2 linked regions of the Homo sapiens genome follow. The protein of the gene in region 1 interacts with the protein of each later gene in a pairwise test. Each region holds a gene or a part of one and is shown on either strand. Other genes may lie near its edges.

What was found.
Region 2: the proteins of C3orf62 (region 1) and ING5 interact in binary tests that used the Homo sapiens proteins (3 or more experiments, as listed by UniProt).

What each region holds. Positions count from the first base shown.
Region 1 is NC_000003.12:49,273,466-49,282,536, reverse strand, and holds the start of C3orf62 (uncharacterized protein C3orf62), read left to right. Parts: upstream 1-5,304; 5' UTR 5,305-5,664; coding exon 5,665-6,110; intron 6,111-8,350; exon of another isoform or gene 8,351-8,396; coding exon 8,397-8,488; intron 8,489-9,071. Other genes in the region: USP4 (ubiquitin carboxyl-terminal hydrolase 4), read left to right, coding at 1,690-1,793, 3,635-3,723, 4,086-4,244. UniProt on the Homo sapiens protein: Essential for normal spermatogenesis and male fertility.
Region 2 is NC_000002.12:241,710,932-241,719,546, forward strand, and holds part of ING5 (inhibitor of growth protein 5), read left to right. Parts: intron 1-445; coding exon 446-557; intron 558-1,046; coding exon 1,047-1,140; intron 1,141-8,551; coding exon of another isoform or gene 8,552-8,615. UniProt on the Homo sapiens protein: Component of the HBO1 complex, which specifically mediates acetylation of histone H3 at 'Lys-14' (H3K14ac) and, to a lower extent, acetylation of histone H4. Component of the MOZ/MORF complex which has a histone H3 acetyltransferase activity.

The DNA of each region.
Region 1 (9,071 bases):
GGGAGGCTGAGGTGGGCAAATTACGAGGTCAGGAGTTTGAGACCAGCCTGACCAACATGGTGAAACCCCATCTCTACTAAAAGTACAAAACAAAATTAGCTAGGCATGGTGGCGCATGCCTGTAATCCCTGCTACTTGGGAGGCTGAGGCAGGAGAATCACTTGAACCCAAGAGGCAGAGGTTGCAGTGAGTCAAGATCGCGCCACTGCACTCCAGCCCGGACGACACAGCGAGACTCCGTCTCAAAAAAAAAAAAATTCTTTATCTTTTCTGTGTGTTTGAAAATTTTTAAATAAAATATTGGAGGAAGAAAGCTTTCTGGGGCCTGTTTTGGTTGAGTTTAAATTATTATGGCACCAACTGTAATTCTGTTAAGAACAGCCATTTCTGCATACTTGCTGAAGCCCTCTGTGTGTATCTCTAGACCCTCATCACCATTTTGTCTGGTGCTGGAGTTACCCAGAAAGGTTCTCCCATTTTCTTTTGTTGTTGTTGTTGTTTTTTTTGTTTTGTTTTTGTTTTTTTTTGAGACCGTGTCTCACTCTGTCGCCAGGCCAGAGTGCAGTGGTGCGATCTCGGCTCACTACAACCTCTGCCTCCTGGGTTCAAGCAATTCTCCTGCCTCAGCCTCCTGAGTAGCTGGGACTACAGGCGCCTGCCACCATACCCAGCTAATTTTTGTATTTTTAGTAGAGACGGGGTTTTACCATGTTGGCCAGGATGGTCTCAAACTCCTGACCTCATGATCCACCCACCTTGGCCTCCCAAAGTGCTGGGATTACAGGCATGAGCCACTGTGCCCGGCCTTTTTTTTTTTTTTTTGAGACGGAGTTACGCTCTTGTTGCCCAGGCTGAAGTGCAATGGCACGATCTCGGCTCACTGCAAACTCTGCCTCCCAGGATCAATCGATTCTCCTACCTCAGCCTCCCAAGTAGCTAGGATTACAGGTGTGTGCCACCATGCCCGGCTAATTTGTGTGTGTGTGTATATATAAATGTATATATGTGTGTGTGTGTGTGTGTGTGTGTGTGTGTGTGTGTGTGTATATATATATATATACACATACTTTTTTTCTTTTTTGAGACGGAGTCTCGCTCTGTTGCCCAGGCTGGACTGCAGTAGTGCGATCTTGGCTCACTGCAAGCTCCACCTCCCGGGTTCACGCCATTCTCCTGCCTCAGCCTCCCGAGTAGCTGGGACTACAGGCGCCCACCACCACGCCCAGCTAATTTTTGTATTTTTTAGTAGAGACAGGGTTTCACCGTGTTAGCCAGGATGGTCTCAATCTTCTGATCTCGTGATCCGCCTGCCTTGGCCTCCGAAAGTGCTGGGATTACAGGTGTGAGCCACCGTGCGCGGCCTAATTTTTGTATTTTTAGCAGAGACGGGATTTCACCATGTTGGTCGGGCTCGTCTCGAACTCCTGATCTCAGGTGATCCACCTGCCTTGGCCCCCCAAAGTGCTGGGATTACAGGCATGAGCCACCACACCCAGCCCCATTTTCTAGCCTGAATATGTCAGTGGTCAGAACATGGATCCTAGAGTCCCTTCCATCTTGGTCTCTCTCGAATAGTTTGAGTGCCTCCCTGTGTTCTGCCCTGTTGCATAACAGAGGTTGCTGGGTTACTCTTAACTACTTTGTTTGGGTTTAACATATTCAATAACTATTTTTGTGTTTTGTGCTCAGAGGGCTGAACATGTCCGAGTTTGTCTGTAACCTGTCAGCAAGGCCTTATGTGTACGACCTCATTGCCGTGTCCAATCATTATGGAGCCATGGGGGTTGGCCACTGTAAGTATTGACATCTGCTTCCTTCTGAGATGTTGAAATGTGCTCGGCCATCATCTCTCACCAGTGGACCAGGCATTGCCCTAAATGCTTTGCTTATGCAGTTTCACAGGCTTCATGCTGCACGCTTTCTTCATACTGATTCCCCTCTCTGTTTTTTTTTAATTCTTTTTTTTTTTTTTTTTTTGAGACGGAGTCTCGTTATGTCACCCAGGCTAGAACACAGTGGCGCAATCTCACTCACTGCAAGCTCTGCCTCCCAGGTTCACGCCATTCTCCTGCCTCAGCCTCCTGAGTAGCTGGGACTACAGGCGCCCGCCACCACGCCTGGCTAATTTTTTGTATTTTTAGTAGAGACGGGGTTTCACCATGTTAGCCAGGATGGTCTCGATCTCCTGACCTCGTGATCCGCCCGCCTCGGCCTCCCAAAGTGCTGGGATTACAGGTGTGAGGCACTGTGCCTGGCTGGTTTGCTCTTTTTTTGAGACAGATTCTCACTCTGTCACCCAGGCTGGAAAGCAGTGGCGCAGTCTCGGCTCACTTGCAACCTCCACCTCCCGGGTTCAAGCGATTCTCGTGCCTCAGCCTGCCGAGTAGCTGGGATTACAGGTGTGCGCCACCACACCTGGCTAATTTTTGTATTTTTAGTAGAGACAGGGTTTTGGCATGTTGCCCAGGCTGGTCTTGAACTCCTGGGCTCAAGCGAACCACCCTGCCTTGGCCTCCCAAAGTGTTGGGATCACAGGTGTGAGTCACCGTGCCCTGCCTGTGTTCATTTTTATTTGCTAATTTTTGCACACAAACATACCATTTGGGCAAGTTTCTCATCCTCAGTTTTCTCATCCATGAGGTTAGGCTGGTTGTGTGAGGGTCCACATTGGGCCTACAGTTGGAACTTCAAAATTGAAAGCCACCGTTGCTGCTATTGTGTCAAGCACAGACTGTGTGAACTGGCCTTGGGCACCTTCTCTGTTGCCCTTTCCCATGATCCTCACCACCACTTTGTGCAGTCAATGCTATAGTGAGGAAACTGAGGCTGAAGTGTTAAACACCTTACCTAAAACCACACAGTAAGTTGACACTGGATATCAGATCTCCATTGGGTTCTGTAGTTTCTGAGAGTCTGGGTGGAGCAGGAACTGGGCTGGGATTGCTGTAATAAACACATCCTGCTTGGGAATAGTGTAAAGTCAAGACAAGAAGCATTGCCTCTGGGAAATGCTTGAATCATTGTGGGAAACTGTTACCTAACCACAGACTCTGGACTCCTAGTTTTAGAGAAAGATAAATTTTTTTTTTTTTGGATATGGAGACTAAGGTATGTTGTTCACATCCCAGCTCTGCAAACCCAAACACCCAATGTTCCTCTAACTGGGATTATTCTGTAGGCTCCCGAGGCACTAAGCATTCTGTTGATGTTAGTAGCCACCTGCCTAGATGCAATGGGGGAGACTGACTTGGCATGTCCTTGTGAGAGCTATTGTTTTGCTTAAATCTTAGAAGTTTCAGCTCCTTTTATGGGTTCCCTGGTTTTGGATTATTGCACATAGCCATCCTGAAGATTGGCACTGAATAGCTCTGTTTTTTCTATTAGTTTCCCAAAATTATAGTTTAAAATCTTGGTCCCTGACAGCTCCATTTTTAGCCTTTTGATCCTTTTTGAGAAGGAACAGATTAGAAAAGAAGGTGAGTTGTTTTTTGGTTGTTAAGACACACACTGTAAACTTTTTTAATTTCAGGGGTTTTGTTTTGGGGATTTTTGTGTTTATTTAGTGCAAGCCTAATAAGCTAGCCAGATTAATTCTCTGGAGACCGCTAGAGTATTTTCTTTGTTGACTTGGCAGACACTGCATATGCGAAGAACAAACTGAATGGTAAATGGTATTACTTTGATGATAGCAACGTGTCCCTGGCCTCTGAGGATCAGATAGTGGTGAGTAGGCCATGATATGTGGTTCTTCCTCATGTCGTTATGGATTAAAGCTGGGAAGAGCCTCTATCAGGCTAGTTGGTTATTTCATCATCCTGATGTGATAGTGGGAGCTAGGTGTGACAGAGCTGGCTGGCATTCCTTCAGGGACCTTCATAAATGAGAAGCTCAGCTCTCCTCAGAGTTCTCTGCACAAGGCTCCTTCCATTTCCTGCTGCCTGGCAGGGGCAGCCATCCTCAGGTGGAAGGGTCTCCTCTGTGTGGATATGGCAGATCCTTGAGGGTTTTGGACAGCTAGAGAAAAGCTGGGGAAAATGGGTGATTTTTCCAAGCACTGAATGGTCTTTCCCCCTCTTGTATTTCAGACTAAAGCAGCTTATGTGCTATTTTACCAACGTCGAGATGATGAATTTTATAAGACACCTTCACTTAGCAGTTCTGGTTCCTCTGATGGAGGGACACGACCAAGCAGCTCTCAGCAGGGCTTTGGGGATGATGAGGCTTGCAGCATGGACACCAACTAATGCTGACTCCACGATCCTGCCACCCTGTAGCGCCAGTGTAATCCCCCAGGAGAACATCTTTGACACTCTGCAGACTGCTAGTGTTCTGTCTAAAAACCAGACAAGGAAATACCCTTCTTTTATGAGCAGAAGGAAACAAAAAAAAAAAAAGAAGACCGTTTACCTAGAAGAAGCTATGTCAAGAGGCTGAATTATTTTTATTTTTAAACAGGTGGTGAGAAATTTCTGTGAAACCTGTGAAGCTGAAAAGGGGGTGGGATGGGGGTACTCAATGGAGTATGTCTGATGGATCCCGAAGAATGGAGAGGAACACAGGCGCTGAGTATGGAGCAGCCTGGAGACCCACCCCACCTGCAGGGCTGCCCTGAGCGCCTGGATTTCTGGTTCTGATGCCAATACTAGTCACCCCAAGTAGTCTGCTCACAGTAACCCAAACCTCAAGTAAACTCCCCTTTCCCTCGCTATGTGCACTGATATGGGTTTATAATTTTCTGAAAGTTACCCACTGAAGCCCATTTCTCCGTTGAGTCATCTTGTAATTTCCAGCTTTCTCCCCGCTAAGGAAGATATCTAGTGTTGGGGATCCTGGCCCCTCAACCTCCTGTGGAACCCAGCAGTTCTGTTATATCCCCTGCTACCCTAGATGAATTAAGACGGTTAAATACTGTGTGGAACTTTTATTAGATAACACACTTTTTATTAGATAACGCTTAAAGGAAGTCAGTACATAAAACTGCCCGGTGCTGTGTCCCGTCTAGTTGTTTCCATGTTGGCTTGAGAACAGAAATCTTTGTGGGAGTTAGCCGGGAAAGGGCTCCAGTTCATGGCGATTTAGGGTAGTAATACATTTTGGTGTTACCCAGATGCTTTCTAGAACGGGTTCTTTCCTCATCCCTGCCAAGACTCTTCCCGGGGCCCCCATTCGAAAGCCCCGTCCCCACTCCCACCGCGGGGCCAGCCGCTGCGTGTGGGCAAGGCCTTAAGGAACCGGACGTATGGGTCCGGGATTTTTTGTCTGACCTTCAACCTAATCCGTGGGGGTTTGGGGCCTGCGCGGGGCACGCGCATGCGATGACCGTTGGATGGGTCGGCGTCACTGCGCTGCGGGTGAGGACAAGGACGTGGCTGCCGACTCGCCAAAGGGGGGGTGCCGGTAGGGCCAGCGGCCTGGGAGCCGCGGTGGGGCGGGAGGCAGCGGCGGGGCGGGCCAGGAAGCTGTGGGAAGTGGGGCGGGGCGTCTTTGGGGCTTCTGGCAGATGGCGGGTTCCTCCGCGAGAGCCGAGAACCGCCTACTCCAGGAGGAAAGCCCGAGGGTTGTGGGTCCTGCTATAGCCAGGGCCAAGCTCCAGGAAATCGTGGCCATTCAGGGGTAGTTTGCAGCCTCATTTGTAACATTATTGTGTTGTCCTGTGCATTTCCAATGCATTACATAAAGACATGGTCGCTTTTAGGAGAAATGTCTGAAAAACTAAGAAGATGCAGAAAGGAACTGACTGCAGCCATTGACCGGGCCTTTGAAGGAGTTAGTTATTCCCAGGAGTGCACAGGCCAGCAGAGGCTGGAACTGAGCGCCGCGCCGCTCTCCTTCTCGCTGCCCGTGCACAGGCTCCTCTGCAGAAGACATCCTCTGGCAGCCTGCTCTTCTGCTGCTCCTTTTGCTGCTGTCCCATGTGCTCCTGAGAATGAGAACCCTGCCTTTGCAACAAACCATGCCCCGGTAAATGCAAAACCACATGCTCTGTGCCCCGAGAGAAAACCTCTAACCAGCAAGGAAAATGTATTGATGCATTCCTCCATTTTGGCACCTGAAAGAGAGTCTTGGAGAACTGCAGGAGAGGGGGAAAACTGGAGAAAAGAAAATTTAAGGTGATTCTAATTTTGATGGTTTAACAGCTACAATTAAGGGGATTCTTGTTTCTGAAAAAGTTGTTGAAGATCCTAGATTTAGTTCATGACAGTGCTCTTGCCTCCTCTTGGCAGCTCTGTGACTGCATTTGGGGAGTTGACAGACATTCTTCAGAATCTGGCCTAGGAAACAGTTATATTTTGTGTATATGTTCCAGTTGAGGGGCTAGTTGTCAATCGTTGATGTCAAAAACCAGTCATGGAAACCACTTTGCAGTACCCAAAGGGGTAGTGGATGTAAAATAACCGGGTTTTAAAAATAACCTTATTTTTTAAGTTGCAGAAACAAAAGTCTTAATTCCATCTTAACTCCTGTGTTTGAATCTGGACACTGGGGCCTTTGATACCCTCCTTTGCCCACATTAGGGAGAGGCTTAATTGAAGGCTGGGCCCTACTTCCTGGCTTCATCTTTGCCTCTGCTCCCCGCTCTTACCCCAGATCTTTTTGGACCATCACCAGGTCTCTTCTAGACTTTTTCTTCTCCCGAGTAACTTGAAATTGCCTGGTCCCAGGCACCTTGACTTGGAGAAGGGATGAATGTATGAGATGAAACTTCAGGCCGGGCGCGGTGGCTCACACTTGTAATCCCAGCACTTTGGGAGGCCGAGGCGGGCAGATCACGAGGTCAGGAGATCGAGACCATCCTGGCTAACACGGTGAAACTCTGTCTCTACTAAAAATACAAAAAATTAGCCGGGCGTGGTGGCGGGCGCCTGTAGTCCCAGCTACTCGGGAGGCTGAGGCAGGAGAATGGCATGAACCCGGGAGGCGGAGCTTGCAGTGAGCCGAGATCACGCCACTGCACTCCAGCCTGGGCGACAGAGCGAGACTCCGTATCAAAAAAAAAAAAAAAAAAAAAAAAAAAAACTTCAAAGTTCTGCCATCTTGGCTGCTTCATAGGAAGGGGATAAAGAGGCCATTTAATTGGTTCAACTCCACAAGAATTTTTTTCCTTTCAACTCCACAAATATTTATATTGGTACTCATAAGCAGTGCAGGCCTTGCCGGGTGTGGTGGCACGCCTGTAATCTCAGCACTTTGGGAGGCTGAGGTGGGTGGATCGCTTGAGGTCTGGTGAAACCCCGTCTCCACTAAAAATACAAACATAAGCCGAGCGTGGTGGCGCGCGCCTATGATCCCAGCTACTTGGGAGGCCGAGGCAGGAGAATTGCTTGAATCCTGGAGGCAGAGGTTGCAGTGAGCTGAGATCTTGCCATGGCACTCCAGCCTGGGCAACAGAGCAAGACTCCATCTTAAAAAAAAAAAAATGCTGGGCACAGTGGCTCACGCCTGAATCCCAGCACTTTGAGAGGCTGAGGCGGATGAATCACCTGAGGTCAGGAGTTTGAGACCAGCCTGGCCAACATGGTGAAACCCCGTCTCTACTAAAAATAGAAAAATTAGCTGGGTGCCGTTGCGGCCGCCTGTAATCCCAGCTGCTCCAGAGGCTGAGACAGGAGAATCGCTTGAACCCAGGAGAAGGAGGTTGCGATGAGCCGAAATTGCGCCCTTGCACACCAGCCTGGGCGACAAGAGCAAGACTCTGTCTTTAAAACAAACAGGCCAGGCGCGGTGGTTCACTCCTGTAATCCCAGCACTTTGGAAGACTGAGGCGGGCAGATCACCTGAGGTCAGGAGTTCGAGACCAGCCTGGCCAACATGGTGAAACCCCCATCTCTACTAAAAATACAAAAATTAGCTGGGCGTGGTGGCAGGCGCCTGTAATCCCAGCTACTCAGGAGGCTGAGGCAGGAGAATCACTTGAACCTGGGAGGCAGAGGTTGCAGTGAGCCGTGATTGCGCCATTGCACTCCAGCCTGGGGGACAAAGCGAGACTTCATCTCAAAAAAATAAATAAAAAATAAAAATAAATAAATAAGTAAACAAATGCAGGCTGGGTGAGGTGGCTCATGCCCGTATTCCCAGCACTTTGGGAGGCTGAGGCGAGTGGATCGCCTGAGCCCAGGAGTTCGAGACCAGCCTGGGCAACATGGCTAAACCCTGTCTCTAAAAAAGAAAAAAATTTAATACAGTCTGCGATGCTCGTGAGTCATTATGGTAAAGCTGTTAGTCAATTTCTCCACTGATGTAGCAGTTTCCAATTGTCCTTTAATCAAAGCATAAATGACAAGGTCACCAGTAAGTTTTTGTCTTTGAGATTATCTAAAACTGAGTTTCCCTTCAATATTTTCTTGAAAGAGAATCTAATTCCCCACCTTTTCTTCCCCCCCACCTGGGGGCTGCAGGAAAGATATGGAGAGAGATTTGAAGGCTGACTCAAACATGCCACTCAACAATTCTAGCCAAGAGGTCACAAAGGATCTGCTTGATATGATTGGTGAGTACAGTGGGCAAGTCCATCCTGTCCTTGGGAAGATAGGTCCTTCACATGGGTCTGAGTCAGCAAATATCTCAGATATAAGAAATGCTCTCGGCCAGGCACGGTGGTTCATGCCTGTAATCCCAGCACTTTGGAAGGCCGAGGAGATCGAATCATGAGGTCAGGAGTTCAAGACCAGTCTAACCAATATGGTGAAACCCCGTCTCTACTAAAAATACAAAAATTAGCCAGGCGTGGTGGTGCACGCCGGTAATCCCAGCTACTCGGGAGGCCGAGGCAGGAGAATTGCTTGAACCCGGGAGGCAGAGGTTGCAGTGAGCTGAGATCTTGCCACTGCACTCCAGCCTGGGGGACAGAGTGAGACTCCCATCTCAAAAAAAAACAAAAAACACTCTCTTCTAGCTTGGGTACCATACATAGCGAGATCTGTCTCTTAAAATTTTTTTTAATTAGCTGGGCACAGTGGTGTGTGCCCATAATCCCAGCTACTAGGGAGGCTGAGGTGGAAGGATCACTTGAGCCCAGGAGTTCAAGCTATGATCATACCACTGTACTGCAGCCTGGGCAACTGTGCGAGACC
Region 2 (8,615 bases), on another chromosome or scaffold:
AGAGATGGGATTTTACCATGTTGGTCAGGCTGGTTTTGAACTCCTGACCTCAGGTGATCAGACTGCCTCGACCTCCCAAAGTGCTGGGATTACAGGTGTGAGCCGCTGCACCTGGCCTCCAGGTAGCCATATTTTAAAGTAGGGTTCAGCGTCAGATATCCCAGGCCTTGTTCACTGCATTTCACAACTCTGCTTCTCATTATTGCCCACACTCATGTCTTTTCCCTAAATGGGATTTATTCCATTGCAATGTCAAAATATGCAGAAAAAGCACAAGACCCTTGCATGGACTTTGAAATAGTGGGCCTTGTTTTAGCAGAGGTTTGTTCATTGGAGACTCAATTAAAGGGCAAGAAGGTGTTTCCTGGTGGATACTTTTGTACATTCGTGATTCTGAGGTGTTTTGGTTTTACTTTAAAATAAGACTTTGGGTATCCTTTTGTAGGTGGATAAACACATTCGAAGGCTTGATGCAGACCTGGCGCGCTTTGAAGCAGATCTGAAGGACAAGATGGAGGGCAGTGATTTTGAAAGCTCCGGAGGGCGAGGGTTAAAAAGCAAGTCTGTTAATTTTTTTTCTTTATTTTATTACTGTTAACTATGGAGTTTTGAAGAGTTTTGTCACGGTAAATCATTAAAGTATGATCACTAGGGTAAGTATCATATTTGGGTAAACCTTGTCTTGCAGGCTGGGTGTGGTGGCTTACGCCTGTAACCCCAGCACTTTGGGAGGCTGAGGCAGGAGGATCACTTGAGGCTAGGAGTTTGAGACCAACCTGGGCAACATAGCGAGACCTCATCTCAACAAAAAATTTAAAAATTAGCCAGGTGTGGTGGTGCACACCTGTGGTCCCAGCTACTCGGGAGGCTGAGGTGGGTGGATTGCTTGAGCCCGGGAGGTCAAGGCTGCGGTGAGCTATGATTGCTCCGCTGCACTCCAGCCAGCCTGGGAGACAGAGCGAGACCCCTTTTTAAAAACAAAACACAAAACTTGCCTTGCTTTAGAGAATTCTATAAAAATAATTTGCATCTTGATTATTTTTCAGAAGGCCGGGGTCAGAAAGAAAAAAGAGGGTCCCGGGGCCGAGGCAGGAGGACATCAGAGGAAGACACACCAAAGAAAAAGAAGCACAAAGGAGGGTAAGAGGCTTTCCCCTCTTTTTCCCAAAAGAACGAATACCCATAGCCTGTATCCCGGATGTAGGAACACTGATGGAAGCTGACCCGAGTGAAGTGCACCCCGTGTGCCGGGTGGTATTCTGATTCTTACGCTGCGCGCCTGTCGTCAGCCTGTCCTCACCGCAGCCTTTGAGGGGGTGCCGTTGTCAGGGGCATTTTCAGTGTCGCAGGGACCTGCCCAGGCTTTAGGGCTGCTGTGGTGCGGCTGGGCTGCACCTGGAGTCTGACTCCAGTGCCTGTCCTCTTAGCCACAGTGTGTGCTGCCCCACTAGGGACAGGAGGATGGTGAGCAACGTGTTGTTGACAGAGGCCAATGTAGACCACTCTTTAAGTAGCTAGATTTCTGTATATCTGTCAGTTATTTTATGTGTCAACATATAGTGTGCATATATTCATTGTTAATTATGTGGCCACATTTATTAAATAGACATGTCATTTAACTTGAAGTTTTTTGAGATACTTTATTTAAAGCATTCTCCCACTGACACCCTCCCTGCCAAAGGTGTTGTATACCCTCCAAAGAGATCGTAGCATTACCTCAGAGGAGTGACATTTAGACTAAAGAGAAAATGCTGAAATGCCACGAAGCCTCTGTGGAGATGATCTCACAGAGGGAGGGTCAAAGAGTGTAAGTTTTGGGCACGGTAGCTCATGCCTATAATTCCCGCACTTTGGGAGGCCAAGGCGGGAGGATCACTTGAGCCCAGGAATCTGAGACCAGTCTGGGCAACCAAGTGAGTCCCCCATCTCTACAAAAAATAGAAAAAATTAGCTGAGGGTGGTGGTGTGGGCTGTAGTCCCAGCTACTAGGGAAAGCTGAGCTGGGAGGATCATGAGCCACGATCGCACCACTACATTCCAGCCTGGGCCACAGCATGAGACTCTGTCTCAAAAAAAAAAAATAAAGAGAAAAAAAGAGTTCTTCTTGACAAAAAAGGGACAATTTTCTTTTTTTTTTTTTTTGAGATGGGGTTTCGCTCTTGTTGCCCAAGCTGGAGTGCAATGGCGCCATCTCGGCTCACTGCAACCTCTGCCTCCCAGGTTCAAGCGATTCTCCTGCCTCACCCTCCTGGATAGCTGCAACTACAAGTGCGCACCACCATGCCCGGCTAAGTTTTTGTATTTTTAGTAGAGATGGGATTTCACCATGTTAGCCAGGCTGGTCTCGAACTCCTGACCTCAGGTGATCCACCTGCCTCGGCCTCCCAAAGTGCTGGGATTACAGGCATGAGCCATCACACCCGACCCAATTTTCAGTTTTTTTTTTTTTTTTTTTTTGAGATGGAGTCTTGCTCTGTCCCTCAGGCTGGAGTGTGGTGGCGCGATCTCAGCTCACTGCAACCTCTGCCTCCCAGGTTCAAGCAGTTCTCCTGCCTGAGCCTCCCAAGTAGCTGGGACTACAGGTGCATGCCACCACACCCAGCCAATTTTTTTTTATTTTTTGTAGAGATGAGGTTTCACCTTGTTAGTCAGGATAGTCTTGATCTCCTGACCTCGTGATCCACCTGCCTTGGCCTCCCAAAGTGCTGGGATTACAGGCGTGAGCCACTGTGCCCAGCCCCAATTTTCAGTTTTTTAGCTAGTGCTTAGCCTTTTGGCCGGGCGAGGTGGCTCATGCCTGTAATCGCAGCACTTTGGGAGGCCAAGGCAGGTTAATCACCTGAGGTCAGGAGTTCAAGACCAGCCTGACCAATATGGTGAAACCCCGTCTCTACCAAAAATGCAAAATACTTAGCTGAGTAGTTGGCAGCTGCCTGTAATCCCAGCTACTCGGGAGGCTGACGCAGGGAGATTGTTTGAACCCGGGAAGTGGAGGTTGCAGTGAGTCAAGATCACACCACTGCACCCCAGCCTGGGTGACAGAGCAAAACTCCGTCTCAAAAAAAAAAAAAAAATCCCAACATTCTCGTATTGTAAAGTAGTGCACAGATACAGAAAACCGCACAGAACAAACATGGTTTAATTAATTTCCGTAAAGTGAAGATCTTTGTAAGTAGCACCTAGTCAGTGATTAACTGCTGCTGGAAGGCCTTCCATATGCCCTGTTAAAATCATAAACTCCTCCTGCCCCCAAATAAACATGATCCAGATTTCTATAGTGTTTATTTCCTTGTTTCTTTAATAGTTTTATAGTGCATTCCTAGACACTATACATTATAGTTTAGTCCTGTTGTTTTTCTAACCTTTTAAATTAACTTTATTAAGGAATAATTTACATACAATAAAATGTTATTCTAAGTGTACAGTTTGATGTTGCATTCAGTTCCTTTAAAGTTATGGAAGTATTCAGGCTTTCTATTTCTTCTCGAGTCAGTTTTGGAAAAAATCTGTGTCTTTCAAGAAATTTGTTTCATGTAAGTTGTCAGATTTTTTTGACATCAGGTTGTTAATAATTTTGCATTATTATGGTTCTGATGTGTCTGTTATGATGACCCCTCTTTCAGTCCTGATACTGGTAATTTATGTTTCTCTCATTTTGTCTTGATCCTTTTTTTTTTTTCCCTGAGGGCAGGGTCTAGCTGTGTCACCTAGGCTGGAGTGCAGTGGCATGCACATGGCTCACTGCAGCCTCCACCTCCCTGTCCCCAGGCTCAAGTGATTCTCCCACCTCAGCTCCCGAGTAGCTGGGACCACAGACATGCGCCACTATGCCTGGCTAATTTTTTGTAGAGACAGGGTTTCATCATGTTGCCCAGGCTGGTCTCAAACATCTGGGCTCAAGCAGTCCGCCTGCCTCAACCTCTCCGTGTGTTGAGATTACAGGCGTGAGCCACTGCGTCTGGCCGTCTTGATCTTTTTAGAGAACTAGCTTTTAGTTTCATTATTTTTATTGTTTTCTCTATTTTTTTGTTTGCTATTGCATTTGTTTCTACTCTCTATTTCCTGTTTTCTACTCAGGTTTACTTTGCCTATACTATTCTAGCTTTTTAAGGTGGAAGTAGCTTGCATAATTGATTTTTATATCTTCCTTGTTCTAATTATTATCTTTGTTGCACTCCACAAATTTTGATATATTATGATTTTGATATAATTTTGATATTGTTTTAAATTTTTATTTCGTTTACCTATTTAAAATATTTTAGAATGTTTTTCTTGTTTTTTGAGATGAGGTCTCACTCTGTCACCCAGGCTGGAGTGTAGTGGCATGATCCTGGCTCACTGCAGCCTCCACCTCCTGGGCTCAAGAGATCCTCCCACTTCGGCCTCCCAAGTAGCTGGGACCACAAGTGCATGCCACCATGCCTGGCTAATTTTTTATATTTTTGGTAGAGATGGAGTTTCACCATGTTGCCCAGGGTGGTCTTAAACTCCTGAGCTCAAGTGATCCACCCACGTTGGCCTCCCAAAGTGCTGGAATAGAATTTTTTTTTTTTTTTTTTTTTTTTTGGTGAGACGGAGCCTCACTCTGTTGCCCAGGCTTGAGTGCAGTGGTGTGATCTTGGCTCACTGCAACCTCCACCTCCCAGGTTCAAGCAATTCTCTTGCCTCAGCCTCCTGGGTAGCTGGGATTACAGGCACGTATCACCATGCCTGGCTAATTTTTTTTTGTATTTTTAGTAGAGACAGGGTTTCACCATGTTGGCCAGGCTGGTCTTGAACTCCTGACCTCAGGTGATCTGCCTGCCTTGGCCTCCCAACATACTGGGATTACAGGCGTGAGCCACCGCACCTGACCTAGAATTTTTTTTTTCATGCTACTTCTTTGCCCTATAACTTATGTAGAAGTATGTGTCTCAATTTCCAAATAATTTGGGATTTTTCAGATACCTTTCTAATTTTAATTTTTTAGTTGACTTCTGTTGTGGTCAAAGAACATTACATAATTGAAATCCTTTGAAAGCCAGCTAATTTTTGTATTTTTAACAGAGACAGGATTTCACCATGCTGGGCAGGCTGGTCTCGAACTCCTGACCTCAAATGATCTGCCCACCTTGGCCTCCCCTCCCTGTAAAGTGCTGGGATTACAGGCATGAGCCACCGCACCCGGCCTTCATTGCAATATTTGGTCTGTTCATATTTAACATAATTAATGATATGGTGGGATTTAGGTTCACCATCTTGCTATTAGTTTTCTGTTTGTTCCTTCTGCTCCTTTGCTGTCTTCTTTTGGACTAATCAGGTATTTTTTAGTATTCCGTTTTTTTCCCCACTCTTGTCTTATTAGCCATGCTTTTTTTTTTTTTTTTTTTTTTGAGACGGAGTCTTGCACTGTTGCCCAGGCTGGAGTACAATTTGCAATGGCATGATCTTGGCTCACTACAACCTCTGCTTCCCAGGTTCAAGCGATTCTCATGCCTCAGCCTCCGCAGTAGCTGGGATTATAGGTGTGCGCCACCACACCCGGCTAATGTTTTTGTATTTTTAGTAGAGACAGGTTTTCACCATTTTGGCCAGGCTGGTCTCGAACCCCTGACCCCAAGTGATCCACCCACCTCGGCCTCCCAAAGTGCTAGGATTACAGGCGTGAGCCACTGCCCCGGCCCCTGTATTTTAAGGATTGTTCTAGTGTGTGCACTCAGTTTCCTTAAGTTATCACAGTGAGCTTCAGATATTACACTATTTGATGTTTAACGTGTGGCTCCACACAAGTGTTCTTCCATTTCCTGCCTTTGTGCTGTTGTCCTTCACTTTGCCTGTGATCTGAGCTTCCCAGCACGTTATTACCTTAGATGCAAACCACTGATGACGTGAAACACGCCTTAAAATATATGTGGAATGTAAAGATGTTGAACTCACAGAAGTAGAGAGTAGAATGGTGGTCAGGCGCTGGGGTGGTCAGGGGAGACGTTGGATACAGAATTTCATTTAGATAGGAGGAATAAGTTCAAAAGATCCGTTTTACAACATGGTGACTACAGTTAATAACAATATAGTCTCAAAAAAATGTGTAGATTTTAAGTGTTCTCACCACAAAAGTCACCCCATATATAGTTACCTCATATAGTTGCCATTTCTGGTAACCTTCATTTTTTTTTTTTTTTGAGACAGAGTCTTGCTCTGTGTCCCAGGCTGGAGTGCAGTGGTGCGATCTCAGCTCACGGCAACCTCTGCCTCCCAGGTTCAAGTGATTCTTGTGCCTCAGCCTCCTGAGTAGCTGAGATTACACCCACCTACTCACCTGGTTAATTTTTGTATTTTTAGTAGAGATGGGGTTTTGCCATGTTGGCCAGGCTGGTCTCGAACTCCTGGCCTCCAGTGACCCTCTCGCCTCAGCCTCCCAAAGTGGCAGGATGACAGGCATGAGCCACCGCGCCTGGCCCAACTATTATTTCTTAATATTTATTTTCTTTCTTTAAAAATTTTTTTTCCATACATATTCTGCTTACGTATATTTCTTTATGTGGATGCAAATTTCTGTCTTGTCATTTCTCCTCTACTGAAGAACTTTAACATTTTTTGCAGTACATGTATGCTGATGGTGATGAATTCTCTGTTTTTGTTTCTCTGAAAATGCTTTTATTTCACTGCGTATAGAATTTTAGGTTGACCTTTTTTCTTTTATCGCTAAAGATGTTCTCTCATTTTCTTCTGTCTTTCATTGATTCTGATGATAAATTACTGATAATAATTATTTTTGGTGGTTTCTTTTTTTTTTTTTGCTTTTAAGATTTCTCATTGTCACTGGCTCTTAACAGTTTGGTTATGATGTGTATTGGTGTGATTTTTTTGTGTATATTTTGCGTGGAACTTGTTGAGCATCTTTGAACTGTTGGTTTATACTTTGCATCGAATTTGGAAAATTTTCAGACAGTTCTTCCAGTATTTTTGTGCTCTCCTTTCTCCTCTTCCTGCTGTCCAGCTCCCTGTGCGTTCCTTAGCTTAGATTTTCTCACAGCTCACCGAGGCTCTGCTTACTTTCTGCAAGCTTTTTTCTTTCTGTACTTCAGTTTGATTTGTTTCTATTACTTTATTTATTTATGAGACAGGTTCAGGCTCTGTGGCCCAGGCTGGAGTGCGGTGGCGCAATCTCCGCTCACCGCAGCCTCTGCCTCCCGGGTTCAAGCCATTCTCCCGCCTCAGCCTTCCAAGTAGCTGGGATTACAGGTGAGCGTCACCACACCCGGCTAAGTTTTGTATTTTTAGTAGAGTCGGGGTTTCAGCCTGTTGGCCAGGCTGGTTTCAAACTCCTGGCCTCAAGTGATCCGCCCAGCTCAGCCTCTCACCTTCCCTTTCCTTCTTTCTTTCCTTCCTTCCTTTCTTCTTTCCTCCCTTCCTCCCTCCCTCCCTCACTTCCTTCCTCCTTCCCTCCCTCCCTCCCTTCCTCCCTCCCTCCCTTCCTTCCTTCCTTCCTTCTTTTCTCTTTCTGTCTTTTTTTTTTTTTTTTTGAGACGGTCTTGCTTGGTCACCCAGGCTGGAGTGCACTGGTACAATCTTGGCTCACTGCAAGCTCCGCCTCCCAAGTTCAAGCGATTCTCTGCCTCAGCCTCCCAAGTAGCTGGAATTACAGGCACGTGCCACCATGACTGGCTAATTTTGTATTTTTAGTATAGACAGGGTTTCACCGTGTTATGCAGGCTGGTCTCGAACTCCTGGCCTCAGGTGGATCTGCCTGTTTTTGGCCTCCCGATGTGCTGGGATTACAGGCGTGAGCTGCTGTGCCCGGCCCTAAGTTAGTTTTAATCTCCTTTAATACATTTTTCATTTAAGAGATTGTAGGGCTGGGTGCTTTGGCTCATGCCTGTAATCTCAGCACTTTGGAAGGCTGAGGTGGGAGGGTCACTTGAGTAGCCGGGATCACAGGCATGTGCCACCATTCCTTGGTAACCAGCTTTTAAAAAAACATAATCAGTCCTATTTCCCTGCTGAGGGTACATGTCTCATGATTTATTAGCTGTCTGACTTTAGATATAAAGGAAGCGTGGAGAGGGAAATTTCTGTTCTCCCCAGGAGGTGTTCGTTCTGTTTTAGTCCAGGCCAATAGGGCTGGGGGCCTGGGGCGGGGCAGGGTCTCAGCTTCAGCTCCACCGAGGCCCCTTGAGGACCTTGAGGTTTCCTCTCTCGCCTCCTGCCCCAGCGGCTTCCACAGTTGGTAGAAGTGCGGGGGAGGAGACCAGCGGTGCCCGAGCAGACCCCTTGCTCGAGAACTCCGAGGTTGCAGGGATTTTCCCTCTGCTTTTAGTTGCTCTGTGCAGCCTCTGGACTATAAATGTCGGTGGGGACGCGGCCGCCATGTGTGGCTGTGTGGGCTCAGCGTGGCCCAGTGGCCAGCCCAGCCCTCACTCAGTGCATGAGGCAGGCGGACGCCGCCCCCAACCCCCCAACACCCCCCACTCTGGCTGCAGGTCATCTAGCTCTTGTTGCTCCACAGCTCCCCGACATCTTTGAGAATGTGGTTTTTGTGACTTGCTGGGTTTTGTGTTTTCTAACTCAGTGGCAACAGCGTTCTGAGTCTTCCTGCTCCTTCCTGCTCGGAACCTGAAGGCCCTGTCCCGACC